3 linked regions of the Homo sapiens genome follow. The protein of the gene in region 1 interacts with the protein of each later gene in a pairwise test. Each region holds a gene or a part of one and is shown in the gene's direction. Other genes may lie near its edges.

Region 1 (4,876 bases):
ATCTTTTAGAATACAGTTTTCACCACATACAGCTCCAAATTGGCTGTCTACATAAAGTAAATTAACATACTATCTACTAAATAAGCTTATTTTAATATAAACAATGATTAAAACTTGTGTGTATTTCTTAAGAATATAGCCAGTAGATTATTTTATAAATATGAACAATAAATGTTTTGTGCCATATTGGGTGGCGAAGGAGGATTTGCTTTACACTTAATGAATTTTAAGTTGGGTGTTTACTTTTTTGTCAGTATAGAAAGCTGTCTGAGTTTTCTAATGGTCCGTTTCTCCATTTTCAACCCTGACTGCTCTGTTGGTATTCCTGATTTTGAAATGATAAGCAATCTTCAATGTTCTGTAAGAAAAATATATTTGAGGTCACTTTTCTACCTTACTTTGGACAGGAAAATAGAAGGGAAGATACGTTATAAGGAAATTGTATGAGAATTTTTTATTCTTCTTATATTTCTTATATAAAAGTATATATATTCTTCAGAGGAGAAAAATACAGATATATCTCTTGAGTATCAGAAAAGGATTAATTTATTAGTATCACTAATTTTAAGCAAAACAAATATTAAGACTTTATGTTATGTAAATTATATATCGACATATAATAGTATGCTTTTATATTATTATATATAACAATATAATTATTCATTTAATTAAGTCTTATTGTCGAACATATTTTCAAGCATATTTACCTTCTTATTACACACTCTTTACATAGGGAATTGCCCTCAGAAAATTTTAAAAAATCATATTTATTAAAGATACAACCTTTAAGTCTGATGGTTTTATATGTCTTTATAGCTGAAAATAATATAACAATTATTGAATCTTTACAATCTGTTAGGCTCTGTAGCAGGTATTATATATACATACAGCAGTGAATAGAAGAGTTGAAGTTCCTGCCATCATGGAGCTCACAAACATGGGGTAGAGAGTCATTGCCTATGGAAAGGAACAAATTAATAAGAAATAATAAAATTCAAAGTCCTATAAAGCATGAAGAGAGCTGGGATAAAGAATTATGGAGGAGAGAGGGGTGGGGAGAGGGATCTAATTAGATAAAGTAGTCAGGGTGGGCAACACTGGGATCCACAGGTTGAGAGATGACAGGTAAGAAGGATGCAGAGATTTTAAGAGCAGGTAGAAAAAGCAATGTGTGTGCAGAGACCTTGAGGTGGAAAAAATATTGTCCCATTGGGAGAAAAAAAAGAGGCATAGAAATTTTAAGCACATTGTCAAGTAGAATATAGTGTGATATGCTTGAAAACAGAATAAAGAATAGCTCCACATTTTGTGTTTTGGGGAAGGGTAATACACATTTTTGAAATGTAGGGTTTTAAAAAATCCTTTATTAAGTAGTAATTTATTTAATGTAAAGATTATTGAGTTGGAGCCCTACACCCACACTCTTTCCTATCTCCATCACCCCTACCCCTATAGAAGAGTGATGTTTATACCAGTTGACTTACTCTTGTGAAGGACAGAAATTTGCAAGATGGCTATTAATGGTGTGGTAGGCAGCATGACTGCAACCCACCTTTCCAGATTCAGCTCCATCTACCCTCCACCGACCTCCACAGATTTCAAACACAATACAATGCCACACACCCCGCAAATTAGTCATATGCTTTCAAATCCTTATCCTTTTGTTTGTGCTTTACTGTGTGTCTAGCATCTTCTCCTCACTTCTACATTCACCTGTTGAAATTATGAAATTATTCTCATTTTGAAAAGCTGAGAGAAAATGCCATCTCCTCTGAGAAGCCTTCATTTATTGGATACAATTAAAAATAATTCTCCTGTGGTATTTCATACGTCACTGTTGTTGTTTATATATACCTGATAATAATTAATTAAGTATACATATTCAGCTGATTGTAGGGAAGAAGCAAAGTCTGTGTTTTCTGCATCTTCATAGGCTCTCAAATCTTGAGAGTGTTTGCCATACACTGGGTTCTCCTCATTGCCCTTGGATTGGAGTGAAATAAGGAAGGTTAATAGGCCCAAGCTAAAAAAGAAAGTATCCTTGAACCAGAGTGATCTAACTAGATAATTTTAGACATAAAAATACTTTTCAAATTTTATACCTTTTTTACTTTCCCTAAATAAATATAATTATATCTTTTTTTAAGAGAATTAGAGGGATTACATATTTGTGGGTTATTTATAAGAATGCAAGAACATAAACAACCTCATTTTAAAGCTTAACTAATATATGAACAAAGATATTTACATATATTGATTTAGCCAAAGAAAGGGGAATTTACAAGGAAATCAACAGTTTGCAAATAGTTTTATTATTTGGAATCTTAACAAAAATGAAAACTAAAGTAGCCACTGACTACAATGGTGTATAATGAACATTGTATCCCCAAAAGTGTTATGTTTTTATTATGAATTTTTCAATCAAACAAGAACCATAATTGTTCACAGGATAATAACCTTTCTAAATCTTTGGCATGGCTGCTAATGCAGTTGTTTCTTGAGATTTACTTTTTTGGGGCTGTGATCATGAGAGCTATGGTATTATGTGCCATGTATGCTTAATCAGCAGGTGCCTGGGCTTCTTACTAACATTTTAACTAAAATAAATTACAGTATGTATAAGGAATGGAAAGTGAGGTACTTAAAATGTGTTTTCAAGTTAATGCATAATATAAAAAGCAGAAATGCATGTACACCTATAGAAATAAACTGCTTTGCTCCAGTGTGATAGTGAAATCCATCAGTTATTCTAAGAAAAGTGTCCTTCCTTCTTACAAGGTGCTATGTAAGGAAACAAGTGTCTACCGTCTCAGAAAATAATCCACAGCAAATAGTCATCAAAAAAAAAAAAAAACACTGTTTTTGTGCGCTACTGTTTTAGTGTCATTACCATGTGCTCATACAAAGACCACATGCTTGTTTGTTTTGGCTGTTTTGGCTAAACTAAAACAAGGGAACATTTTTCTTCAAAGCACTTTTTATTTTTTGGAAGATATTTTCTCTTTGGTGTTGGTTTTCTAAGGCCATACCCATTGGAGTCTTACTACATATTAATACCTGTTGCTAACTTTTTGATAATTATAATTTTATTATTTGTTAGTTGTATTAAGGTTAGATCAAATTATGGTCTTCTAAATTAAAATGTTGAGTTTTGTTTTGTTTTGTTTTTAACAAGGGACATACTATAAATGCAATTTCTAAGCAGGGAATCTTATGAGAATATTACCAGATTGGTCAATGAAATAATGTTAGAGACAAAAAAGGCATTCATTGTTTATGCATTTTCCTCCTGTGGCTTAATTGTTATGATTTCACAGTCCATATTTGCTATAGGTTTCTGAAAATGTTTAATACCTCAGTAGTTCAATAAGTAAAGTGTAAAATAGTGTAACAGATTAGGTATAATGTAATTAAACATAAAGAAGATGGTTTGCTTTGGGTTTAGTTATATCCATAGATTGAGTTGAGTTTACATATATTAATAATCTATGGCCAACTGTCTGGTGAAGAAATCCTGTGACCTTTCCTAACAAGATTTCAGATACACAAAACCTTCTGTCCCAAAGTTACCGTAATCAATTACGGGCTTCACTTCACATTTTGAATTTGAATACTTTTACATTTAGCCCCAAACTTGTGATTTTTGTTAGTAATTCCATTCTCTATGATGTTACTGTGAGAACAAGTATTTTCAAACCCAACAAGAACCTCCCTTCTCTTTGGTGTAAAGTTACGTCTTCTAAATTTTATTTATTTAAATTTTTTTAAATGGTAGAAATTTAAAAGGAAAGGTTTCTAAATATGATTTATCCACTTAGTTATGGAATTCTATATTTTTCTTAGATATAATTTATATTAATGTCTCCCCAAATGTTGAGAAACTTTAGCCAAAGAGGACTATGATATTTAGATAATACAAATGTTATATAATATTTCAAATATTGTTTTAGCACCCAACAACTAAAACACACACACACACACACACACACACACACACACACACACACACACACACACACACGAATCCAAATCTCTAAGAGACCATTTCAGAGACGTCAATGCAATTTAAAGCCAGTTACAGTGTTTGCATTAGAAAACAACTAATTTCATAGTTTTGGTCTATAATGGTCCAGCATTCAATTTAAGAAACTCAGATCACATGAAAATGTCACCATTTGCTGTTTACTGGGGTGACAGTATACCAGTAGGCATGCGTAGAAATGCAGACACAGTGTCTACACCATTTTATGATAGGTACTACTTTGTCATTCAGAAAAATGTCTCCTTTCATAAAATTAAATTTTGTAATTTATTTTGTGGAATGTATGTTTCTCCCTATGATTTTATGGTTTTTGATATTGGGATTGATAGGAACCCATACGGCATCACCATAGGGAAGGGCCACTTCAAAGTCATTGTCTCACCAGTGCCTGGCATACAGCTAACACTTCAGAAGTATTTGTTGAGTGAATGAAACATACCACATTTGTCAGGACATATATGCAGCAGAAGCATAGAATACAATTGAGATAAATGAACGCATAGCAATGGCTATAATTGGATAATTATTATTATTATTATTTTGGTCTGATTTACTTTTTATTTTATTTATTTTTTTATACTTTATGTTTTAGGGTACATGTGCACAAAGCGCAGGTTTGTTACATATGTATACATGTGCCGTGTTGGTGTGCTGCACCCAGTAACTCGTCATTTAACATTAGGTATATCTCCTAATGCTATCCCTCCCCCCTACCCCCACCCCACAACAGGCCCTCGTGTGTGATGTTCCCCTTCCTGTGTCCATGTGTTCTCCTTGTTCAATTCCCACCTATGAGTGAGAACGTGCGGTGTTTGGTTTTTTTGTCCTGGTGAT
Region 2 (4,876 bases), on another chromosome or scaffold:
TGTGCTGGAGCACCAGCCAGACAACATCAAGGCTCTCTTCCGCAAGGGCAAGGTAGGCCACACCGGGGTGCCAGGCCGGGTCACTCAGCCTGGGGTATACGGGGTGGTCCCCAACCCTGCATTTGAGAAAGGCATAGGTATATAAGCCAGCTGAGCTCTGTGGGGTGCAGGTGGAGAAACTGAGGCCCAGACGGGTGCAGGAGTGTGGCCTGGTCACAACAATTCATTGGCTGAGGCCAGAATTTGATCCTCGAGTCTTGGGTCCCCAACCTTTGGCCCAGTGTTTTTTGTTTGTTTGTTTGTTTGTTTCTTGAGACAGAGTCTCACTCTGTCACCCAGGCTGGAGTGCAGTGGTGTGATCTCAGCTCACCACCGCAACCTCCTCCTCCTGGGTTCAAGCGATTGTCCTGCCTCAACCTCCCAAGTAGCTGGGACTACAGGTGCGAGCCACCACACCCAGTTAATTTTTGTATTTTTAGTAGAGATGTGGTTAGCCATATTGGCCAGGCTGGTCTCGAACTCCTGACCTCAAGTGATCTGCCCGCCTCAGTCTCCCCATGTGCTGAGATTACAGGCCTGAGCCACCGTGCCCGGCTTGGCCCAGTGTTGAAACCTCCTCCCATAGAACCTCCATGGGTCCCAGTTTTCCTCAGAGTAAAGTGGAATCCTAGTCACAGCCCTTGGGGCCTTGAGTTGTCTGGTCTTCCCCCTCCTGCTATCACTTCTCCCACCTCACTTTCTGCTTCTCTCCATCCCACGTGGCATTCTCCCTTTCTGCTGTCTAGCCAGGCTCTCTCCACCTCAGGGCCTTTGCGTAGGCATTGCCGACTGTCTGAGATGTTCCTGACAGGCAGCACGTGGAGGTGACATGCCTCTTGTCCATCTACCTTACTCAAAGGTGGAGATTTGGTCTGTCTTGCTCACTGCCGGATCTCCAGCCTTGCAAACAGGGCCAGGTACATAGTAGGTGCTCAGTAAAAGTCCTGGCAGAGGCCAGGCACAATGGCTCATTCCTGTAATCCCAGCACTTGGGATTACAGGAGGCCAAGGCAGGAGGATCGCATGAGCCCAGACATTTGCGACGAGCCCAGGCAACATAGGGAGACCCCCTTCTCTACCCAAAATATACAAAAATTAGCTGGGTGTGGGGGCGCGGGCCTGTCGTCCCAGTTGCTCAGGAGGCTGAGGATGGCTTGAGCCCCGAAGGTCAAGGCTGCAGTGAGCCTTGATCACACCACTGCACTCCAGCCTTGGCAGCAGAGCAAGACCCTGTGTCAAAAACAAAACACGAGAACAGAAAAAAAAGTTCTGGCAGAACATAGGGGTGAATCTGGCTTGCACAGACTTGACCTTCATTCTCACCCCCTTTTCTGTTCATCCTCACAGCCTCACCCCTAGGTGGGGCTTTCAGGACCTTTTAGCAGTTAACGAAGGAAACTGAGGCACAGATACTGGCTCACCTGCTGTGTTTCTGAAAAGCCTGAGGTGGGGCTCCCTCCAGCTGGGATTTATTAAGGACATACTGTGTGCGGAGTTCTGCAGAGAAATATGAAGAGGGAGAAGATGCAGTTCCTGTTTTTGAAGGCTTTGTTCTCAACCTGGGGGTAGTATCCTCCTGGGGGCAGCAGGAGTGGCTGCTTGTGTAGCTTCATACAAGTTTGGACCTGCTGGTTGAAGGTGATAGAAACCCACTCAAACAGGTTCAAGCAGAAAGGAGGGATCGATAGCTCATGGAACTGCCAAGTTTGGATTAGCTGGCTTCAGGCATAGCTGGATCCAGGCACTCACAATATTGTGGGGATGCTGTTTCTCTGCTCTGACCTTCCCTCCTGGGCCGGCTCCTCTCTCAGGGTGACCATGATGCTCCCCCCTCCCCCCTGGAAAGTTACAGATTTCCATCTTCTACCCCCTCCTTTTTTTTTTTTTTTTGAGACAGAGTCTTGCTCTGTCACCCAGGCTGGAGTGCAGTGGCACGATCTTGGCTCACTGCAACCTCTGCCTCCTGGGTTCAAGCGAGCACATCCAGCCTTTTTTTGTATTTTTAGTATAGACGGGGTTTCACCATGTTGGCCAGGCTGGTCTTGAACTCCTGACCTCAAGTGATCCACCTGCCTTGACCTCCCAAAGTGCTGGGATTATAGGCGTGAGCCACTTCGCCCAGCTCCATCTTCTCCCCTTAGCAACCCATCTCCCATCAGCACCAGCATAGTGCAGGCTGGATCTCATTGACTCATTTGGGTCATGTGCCTGGTCCTGAATCATTCACTATGGCCAAAGCTTTGGAAACATCAGGGCCAGGTGTGGTGCCTCACGCCTGTAATCTCAGCACTTCAGGAGGCCAAGGTAGGAGGATCATTTGAGCCCAGGAATTCAAGACCAGTCTTGGCAGCATAGTGAGACCCCATTGCTACAAAAATTTAAAAAATAATTAAGGGCTGGGCGTGGTGGCTCACGCCTATAATCCCAGCACTTTGGGAGACCGAGGCAGGTGGATTGGTTGAGCCCAGGAGTTCGAAACCATCCTGGGGAACATGGCCCTGTCTCTAAAATAAAATAAATAAATAAGTAGGCCTGGAGCGGTGGCTCATGCCTGTAATACCAGCACTTTGGGAGGCTGAGGCAGGTGGATCACTTGAGGTCAGGAGTTTGAGACCAGCCTGGCCAACATGGTAAAACCCTGTCTCTACTAAAAATACAAAAATTAGCCGGTGGTGGTAGGTGCCTGTAATCCCAGTTACTCGGGAGGCTGAGGCAGGAGAATGGCGTGAACCCGGGAGGCAGAGCTTGCATTGAGCCAAGATCGTGCCACTGCACTCCAGCCTGGGCGAGAGTGAGACTCCATCTCAAAATAATAATAATAACAATAGTAATAATAATTTTATAAATAAATACATAAATAAATAATTCGTTGGACATGGTAGTACACGCCTGTAGTCCCAGCTCCTCGGGAGGCTGAGGCTGGAGGATTGTGTGAGCCTAGGAGTTTGAGGCTGCAGTGAGCTATGATCATGCCATTGCACTCCAGCCTGGGTGACCGATCAAGACCCTGTCTCTAAAGGAAAGAGAAAAAAAAAACAACAACCTCTGGAAGCATCCATTCGGCCTCTCGCCAGTGGAGGTGGTGAGGGAGGAGGCAGCGAGGTGGGTGCCTAGATCTGCAGCTGAGACAGGAAGGAGGAGCATGTTGCGGGGACCAATGCCAAGCTAAGTGTGCACTGATGGAGTTTGAGGGCTAGGAGAGCAGTTTGGGAGTGGCTGGAACCCAGGGATGTTGCCAGAGCTCCATTTGGCACTTGTATGAGTAGCCAGGAGCCTGGCTGTTTTTTTTGTTTGTTTGTTTGTTTTTGAGACGGAGTCTCGCTCTGTCGCCCAGGCTGGACTGCAGTGGCGTGATCTCGGCTCACTGCAAGTGCTGCCTCCTGGGTTCACGCCATTCTCCTGCCTCAGCCTCCCGAGTAGCTGGGACTACAGGCGCCCGCCACCATGCCCGGCTAATTTTTTTGTATTTTTTAGTAGAGACGGAGTTTCACCATGTTAGCCAGGATGGTCTTGACGTCCTGACCTCTTGATCCGCCTGCCTTGACCTCCCAAAGTGCTGGGATTACAGGTGTGAGCCACCGCGCCCAGCCTTTTTTTTTTTTTTTGAGATGGAGTCTCACTCTGTCGCCCAGGCTGGAGTGCAGTGGCACGATCTCGGCTCACTGCAAGCTCCGCCTCCCGGGTTCACGCCATTCTCCTGCCTCAGCCTCCCGAGTAGCTGGGACTATCAGGCGCCCGCCACCTCGCCCAGCTAATTTTTTTTGTATTTTTAGTAGATACAGGGTTTCACCGTCTTAGCCAGGATGGTCTTGATCTCCTGACCTTGTGATCCGCCCGCCTCGGCCTCCCAAAGTGCTGGGATTACAGGCATGAGCCACTGCGCCCGACCCTTTTTTTTTTTTCTTTTTTTAAGACAGGGTTGCACTCTGTCACCCAGACTGGGGTGCAGTGGTGTGATCTCGGCTCACTGCAACTTCTGCCCCCTGGTTCAAGCAATCCTCCCACCTCAGCCTCCTGAGTAGCTAGGACTACAGGTGCATGCCACCACGCCTGGCTAATTTTTGTATTTTTTGGTAGAGACGGGGTTTCTCCATGTTGGCCAGGCTGTTTTTATTTTATTTTATTTTTTGAGATGGAGTCTTGCTCTGTTGCTCAAGCTGGAGTGCAGTGACACCATCTTGGCTCACTGCAACCTCCTGGGCTGGATTTCTTGAAGGACAGGCCCAGGTATGGGTCCAGAGTGATGCCACCCCCTTCCCCTTACAGGTGCTGGCCCAGCAGGGGGAGTACAGTGAGGCCATCCCCATCCTGAGGGCAGCCCTGAAGCTGGAACCTTCCAACAAGGTGAGCAGGACAGGGGTGCCCTGGGACTTGCTCGGCTGGGAAGTCCCTCCTGCGGTCTGCCCCAGGTCTTTCTTGCTGTGGCTCTCTGTTGTGTTCCCACCTGGGCAGTGGCACGGAGTAGGTACCTGAAGGGTCCTGGTCAGCTTGTGAAGACCCTCATGACGGCCACACAGGCAGTCTGGGCTCTCACTCCTCCAGCAGCTGAGGGCACTGCCAGCCTGCTCCATGCCAGTGTCCTTGGCCTTCCTTCCAGAACCTTTTGTCTCCTGGCTACCTTGTGCTCTGCGCCATCAATTGGCTCCCTAGGAGGGATGGGGTCAGCAGCCCTGACTTTGCTAAGCCCAGAAAGGGGCAGATGGGACCCCTGTGTCCCAACAGTCCCACCACCCAAACAGCCTAGGGTCCCAGTAAGGCAGAGCGCCAGTGATGACAGGTTGGCCGCTGCGTGTTCTCAGCTTCCCCTGCCTTCTGCAGACGATCCACGCAGAGCTCT
Region 3 (5,554 bases), on another chromosome or scaffold:
ACCAGCCAAGCCACTCTCCCGCCACTACTTTCCACCCCGATCCTCCCTCGATCAGGTTCCCCAGCTCGCATAAGACTTTGCCTGCCAGACCTCGAAAGTCATAAACCCGGGGGATGAAGTGGGAAGACTGTCCAAGGAGCAATGGAGGGAACCTAGTTGTTCTTGTTTTTCCTGTTTTTCACTGAGTTCTTTTATGCCTTTAGTCCTGAGGCGCAAACAGCTGTTGTAGGGCTGCCTAAAGGTCCGAAAGAGACACCCCTCGGCTTGGAAATAACGAGGAATCGTCGTGCACTGAAACGTGAGGAGAGACTGCAGGGACCCCTGGAGCTGGAGCTTTCGGGAGTAACGAAGCTGCAGCTCCTCGAAAATAGGATGGGTTCCCCAAAATAAGAGCTCTTAGGGATCTGAGGCTTGTATTCCCTTGAGTATCTAGGAACTGGGATTGCAGTTTGTGCTTGCCCCCACCTCCCAAGAGAGGACGAGAGCGAGTGAGTCTCTATGCCTGGGCTCCTAAGGAAACTCTCTGGCAGAGCCAGAGGAGCCCCAGACATCCCCACCCCCCCGTCCTCACTCCCTCTCTCCCCCCCACCAGAGCAGGAGGAAGAGGCCGATTGCGTTCCCCAGAGCCACCCAATTGGTCGCCATAACTCACACAATAAAGTGGCAGCGCGGCGGTCAGTCTTGCCCTCCGGCGGCGCCTGTGTGGTCTCAGTGCAGGAGCCCGCGATCTAACCAATTCCAGCTTGGCTCGGAGACCGAGGGTCCTGCTGCAGGCTGAGACTGGCGCCGGTCACCGGGTCTCCCAGGGTCTTGGGATCAGAGGCAGGAGGGGAGGACCCCTAGTCCTCTGGCCGGACTAGGCAAGAGGGCCAGCGACGGGGTCTGAGCACACCGCTCCCGGCTAAGAACTGCTGCCTTTCCCACTTCCCTGTTTGTCAGACCCGTGAACTCCCTATCCCCGGCACCCCTGGGGGCGCTGAGGCAAGGAACTCTGCTAGCCAGCTGCCTCCGAACGCCCGCTGTTCCCCGGCCAGGTGGTTCTGGCTCTTCTGCCTTTCCACACCCAGTCGGGGGAGTTCGTCCTGCTTTGCCCTCCACTTGGTGGATGGGGACACCTCGGAGTTCTGGTTTGCAGTGTGTAGTCCTGGAGAGGACTCCTGAAGATAAAAGGAATGTAGCCTTTGGCCACGATTGGTGGATCGAGCTGATGGGTTCCCTGGCGGACATTCTCCATGGACCTGTATGGCAATTTCCCTATGATCAGAGTTCTTAGCCATGGGGACACAAACCAGAAATAGTGTGGCCTCCTTCCTGGATCCCAAAATTGGGTAGTTTGTGATGCCCTTTTTGTGTCTGCGGCCTGGGACTGAGGGCTCAAGTAGCGAATGGGTCTTTGCTGCCAGATCCTCAGGCAGAGGTCTCTGGAGAAACCCTCTCTGTGGGAGTGATTGGGGTAAAAGTGACATTGCTCAGGCCAAGGGACAGAGCTCCTGGTGCCGCCGGACCGCGCCCTCTCCGGATAAGTCGAGAGGCGCCGGTTAATGGAAAATGCCTCCGCTGCAACTTAAAGCCGGTAGAAGCAAGCCGGGCCCAGAAAGCCTGCGGAAAACGAATCGCAAAGCCAATCACGACCAAGAAGAGTCCCAGGGGACACTTGGGCAGAGTCACCCTCTTGCCCGATGTCCCCAGCTGCTGAAGCCGGGCCTGGAAACCCGCAGACAGTTAGTCTTCGCTCAACCTGATTTGGCTCTGCTGGCAGCCTCGTCCTTCGCCATCGAACATTGCGGGTGTTATCATAATACTCTGAAGGGGGGGAAAACGGGTCGGGGGGATGTAGGCGGTGCTGAAATGACCGGCTTTGAAGAACCTGCAGGCAAAGTTTCGTCCAATCGTCTGAGCCTGTCCTCTTATTCCCGGTTGTAACTAAATACTGTTGCGAGCGCAGCCGAAGCCCTTTGTTGGAGATGTGTGAGCGCAGTCTCTACAGAGCGGGCTATGTGGGCTCGCTTCTGAATCTGCAGTCGCCAGACTCTTTCTACTTCTCCAACCTGAGGCCGAATGGCGGCCAGTTGGCCGCGCTTCCCCCTATCTCCTACCCGCGCGGCGCGCTGCCCTGGGCCGCCACGCCCGCCTCCTGCGCCCCCGCGCAGCCTGCGGGCGCCACTGCCTTCGGCGGCTTCTCGCAGCCCTACCTGGCTGGCTCCGGGCCTCTCGGCCTGCAGCCCCCAACAGCCAAAGACGGACCCGAAGAGCAGGCTAAGTTCTATGCGCCCGAAGCGGCCGCTGGGCCAGAGGAGCGCGGTCGTACCCGGCCGTCCTTCGCCCCCGAGTCTAGCCTGGCTCCTGCAGTGGCTGCTCTCAAAGCGGCCAAGTATGACTACGCTGGTGTGGGTCGTGCCACGCCGGGCTCCACGACCCTGCTCCAGGGGGCTCCCTGCGCCCCTGGCTTCAAGGACGACACCAAGGGCCCGCTCAACTTGAACATGACAGTGCAGGCGGCGGGCGTTGCCTCTTGCCTGCGACCTTCACTGCCCGACGGTAAACGGTGCCCATGCTCCCCGGGCCGGTTTGGGCCGGGATGGGAGGTGGGGTTCAAGGGAGAGTGTAAGGGGAGGTGAACCGCCTGGGGGCGGGCAATAGACAGAGTACGGGCTGGGTTGACGTGGGTTGGGGCTGTGTTGCAGGCCTGCCGTGGGGGGCGGCCCCGGGGAGGGCCCGCAAGAAGCGGAAACCCTACACGAAGCAGCAGATTGCGGAGTTGGAGAACGAATTCCTCGTCAACGAATTCATCAACAGGCAGAAACGCAAGGAATTGTCCAATAGGCTGAACCTCAGCGACCAGCAAGTCAAAATCTGGTTCCAGAACAGGCGTATGAAGAAGAAGCGCGTGGTGCTTCGGGAGCAGGCGCTGGCGCTCTACTAGCCGCGCGCGTGGCCAGGGCCGGGTTGGATCTGCCCTTTTGGACAGAGGCCTTGTTTGGGGAGGGGGATCTGGGGCTAAGGCTAAGGCTTTTCCTTCGGTTCCTTCTCTGCTGGCCCCAGAAGCCACCAAGAGATTTACAGACCAGGCCAGTTGGGCCTCCTTGCTTTCCTCAGTCCCTGAGAAGCCCGTGAGAAACGTGCGGAAGTACCAGTGCAACTCTGGCTGGCCTTAAGGCTTCCACGTTGGGGGACTGAGGCCAACTCTCCTTGCTCCTGGCTGGGGCATTTGCACCCACCGCTCATTCTTGCTCCCCGGTACCTGGATTTTTCTGTTTCCACCCAATTCGTTCTCCCTTTCCCCCTCTCTCCAGCCCCTTCAGCGTATAGCAGTCGCCTAGTTAGGGCTCAGAGTGGAAGGCCTCCTGAGGGAATGGAAAGGACTGTGGGTACAATTAGGTCTCTGCAGCAGAAGCCCTTTGTGGCAAGGCCAGGATCTTCACTCTGGAGAAAGGAAAGGGCACCATCCACCCTCCACCCTCCTGTCTGCCCTGGCTGATTTGAGAGAACAAAAGCCACACTAGATCTTCAGACTTTGGGAGGAAAAGGGAGGGAAGGGGAGGGGCTGGGTAGTGGGGTAAACTTGGAGATATCTCGAAATGAGAAATGCGAAATAGGCTGGCCTATTTCCAGCTGGGTAGAATATGTGGAACCTTCATTTCCTGAGATGGGATGAGAGAGACTGGGACTCCAGACAAGTGCCATCTCCAGACAAGACTGGCAAACATTGCCCTACTCCCACCTTCTCAAACATGCCTAGGCCAGGCCTATGAACCCTGTAACTGGATCCCCAGAGGCTAGCTCTGGTGAAAGGAGCTGTTGGTCTGCTTTGAAGCTCTGTTGCACAGGGAGAGGGAAAAATATCCAGGGGAGGAGAAGGGAGTGAATAAGAGGAGGAGGGGTGCTGCACTCCAACTGTAAATATGGCTTTCCAGTTGAGGTGAGTAAAGGTGTTGGTGCATCTTTCTTTCTTCAATTACCTTAATGGAACCCCATAAGGATAGGCAAAAATCCTTCTCAAGAGTCAAGGGGAGGGGAAGGAAGTCTCTTAGATTCTCTGCCCCGCTAGCTGCTCTTGACAAAGCAAAGAGGACCAGAAGTTCCTCTCACCGTCTCTACCATCTGCCAACTCTACCAGAGGCCCAGCTACTGTGCCCCTTCTGAGGCATGTCTGGCCTGTCCCAGTGGAGACTTTAAGGCCCTGGGCCCTGCCAGGCTTGCCTCATGGAGGCAGGGGTTCCCAAATGCCAGGTGGAGTTGTTCTGGGTGTACTGGAGTGTCCCGCCTTAATCTCAGTGAACCAAGCCTCCCCCTGCGAGCTCATTCCACTATCCCTGCCTCTTCTCCCCTCTCCTTCTGACATGTAGCACTCCTCCTTCGCAATTCCTAGCATGATGCACAACAACTCAAGGATTCAGGATTCCTTCCCAAAGTCCAGTGATTTCTTTTCAGTGCAGGACCTGGCCCTAAATCTGGAGTGGGCCCCTCACAGAGAGCCCTGAGCCTTAGCCCAACTGACTTCAGTTGATATTTAAACTAATTTCATTTTCTAGGCTATCTAATAGTTATCATGCATGTTTTGTTTTGATTTTGTCAAAAACAGTAGCTTGTATATATCAGACACAATATATACAAATGTTTTGAGTGAAAATAAATATCCAGGTCTGAGCCAAGCTGTCAAGGAGCTGAAGTCAATTTTTCAAAATGTTTTGGATTCCACCTTAATGTTTTTCAGGCCACCAAATTCGTTTTTCTTTTCTGGTTATTGTTTCACCGCGAGTGTTGACTGTTCGTTAAATGAGAAAATGGCTTCCGAGGCAGTCAGGAAATGGTGTGTAAAAGCCTACAAACCAAATATGTTTGGAATATCCAAAAGGGAAGGACCATGGCAGATCTGAGTGTGTCTCACACATTAAGGGGACTCTCAGCTTGTTGCAAGCTGGGACTTCCACACTTAGCCTAAATTCTCAAATTTTAAAGCTTGCTGGTATTCGGGGTCTGTAAAGATTTGAGGTTCTTCAGATGTCAAAACAAAACGTCTGTCTCCACCGAATTTTGGTCTGACTTCTCTGGAACCGGCTATGTCCTGCTAAATCCTTGATACCAGCAGGTTTACCAGGCGCCCAGCAGACTCCCTTGGGAAATGGGGCCTCAAAACTCCCTAGTCCATCTGAACCTCTAGCTTAGTCCAGGAAATTCAGGGCCTGCTTGCTACTCATTTTCTTGCAAAAACAAGCTCCTAGCTGGTGGAGGTGGAAACTAGCTTTTAGCTAGAGGAAGAATTAGCAAAACCACTAAATCACTAACACTGAATATTCAACATTTCAACTCCCTTTCCCAGAAGCAAATTTGGTGTATAATTGAAATTTTTAATTGTTCTTTAATTGTATACACACACACAACTATATATACCTATATGTATATATATTCAATAGGAGAGAAAGAAGCAAGAGCTGCCAAGGCCCTATGGCTCAAAAGGATTCTCCACCTGGCTGGGCACATAGAGGCGATGGTACCCAGAGCAGGATCTCCAAGTCTGAGTCTGCATTCAGAGGTTTGCCTCCTCAAAAACAAC

The links. The genes of interacting proteins can lie anywhere in the genome.
Region 2: the proteins of FGF14 (region 1) and FKBP8 interact in binary tests that used the Homo sapiens proteins (3 or more experiments, as listed by UniProt).
Region 3: the proteins of FGF14 (region 1) and HOXD12 interact in binary tests that used the Homo sapiens proteins (3 or more experiments, as listed by UniProt).

Annotation. Positions count from the first base shown.
Region 1 is NC_000013.11:101,909,983-101,914,858, reverse strand, and holds part of FGF14 (fibroblast growth factor 14), read left to right. Parts: intron 1-4,876. UniProt on the Homo sapiens protein: Probably involved in nervous system development and function.
Region 2 is NC_000019.10:18,532,777-18,537,652, reverse strand, and holds part of FKBP8 (peptidyl-prolyl cis-trans isomerase FKBP8), read left to right. Parts: coding exon 1-52; intron 53-4,305; coding exon 4,306-4,383; intron 4,384-4,857; coding exon 4,858-4,876. UniProt on the Homo sapiens protein: Constitutively inactive PPiase, which becomes active when bound to calmodulin and calcium. Seems to act as a chaperone for BCL2, targets it to the mitochondria and modulates its phosphorylation state.
Region 3 is NC_000002.12:176,097,838-176,103,391, forward strand, and holds HOXD12 (homeobox protein Hox-D12), read left to right. Parts: upstream 1-1,957; 5' UTR 1,958-1,964; coding exon 1,965-2,538; intron 2,539-2,684; coding exon 2,685-2,923; 3' UTR 2,924-4,652; downstream 4,653-5,554. UniProt on the Homo sapiens protein: Sequence-specific transcription factor which is part of a developmental regulatory system that provides cells with specific positional identities on the anterior-posterior axis.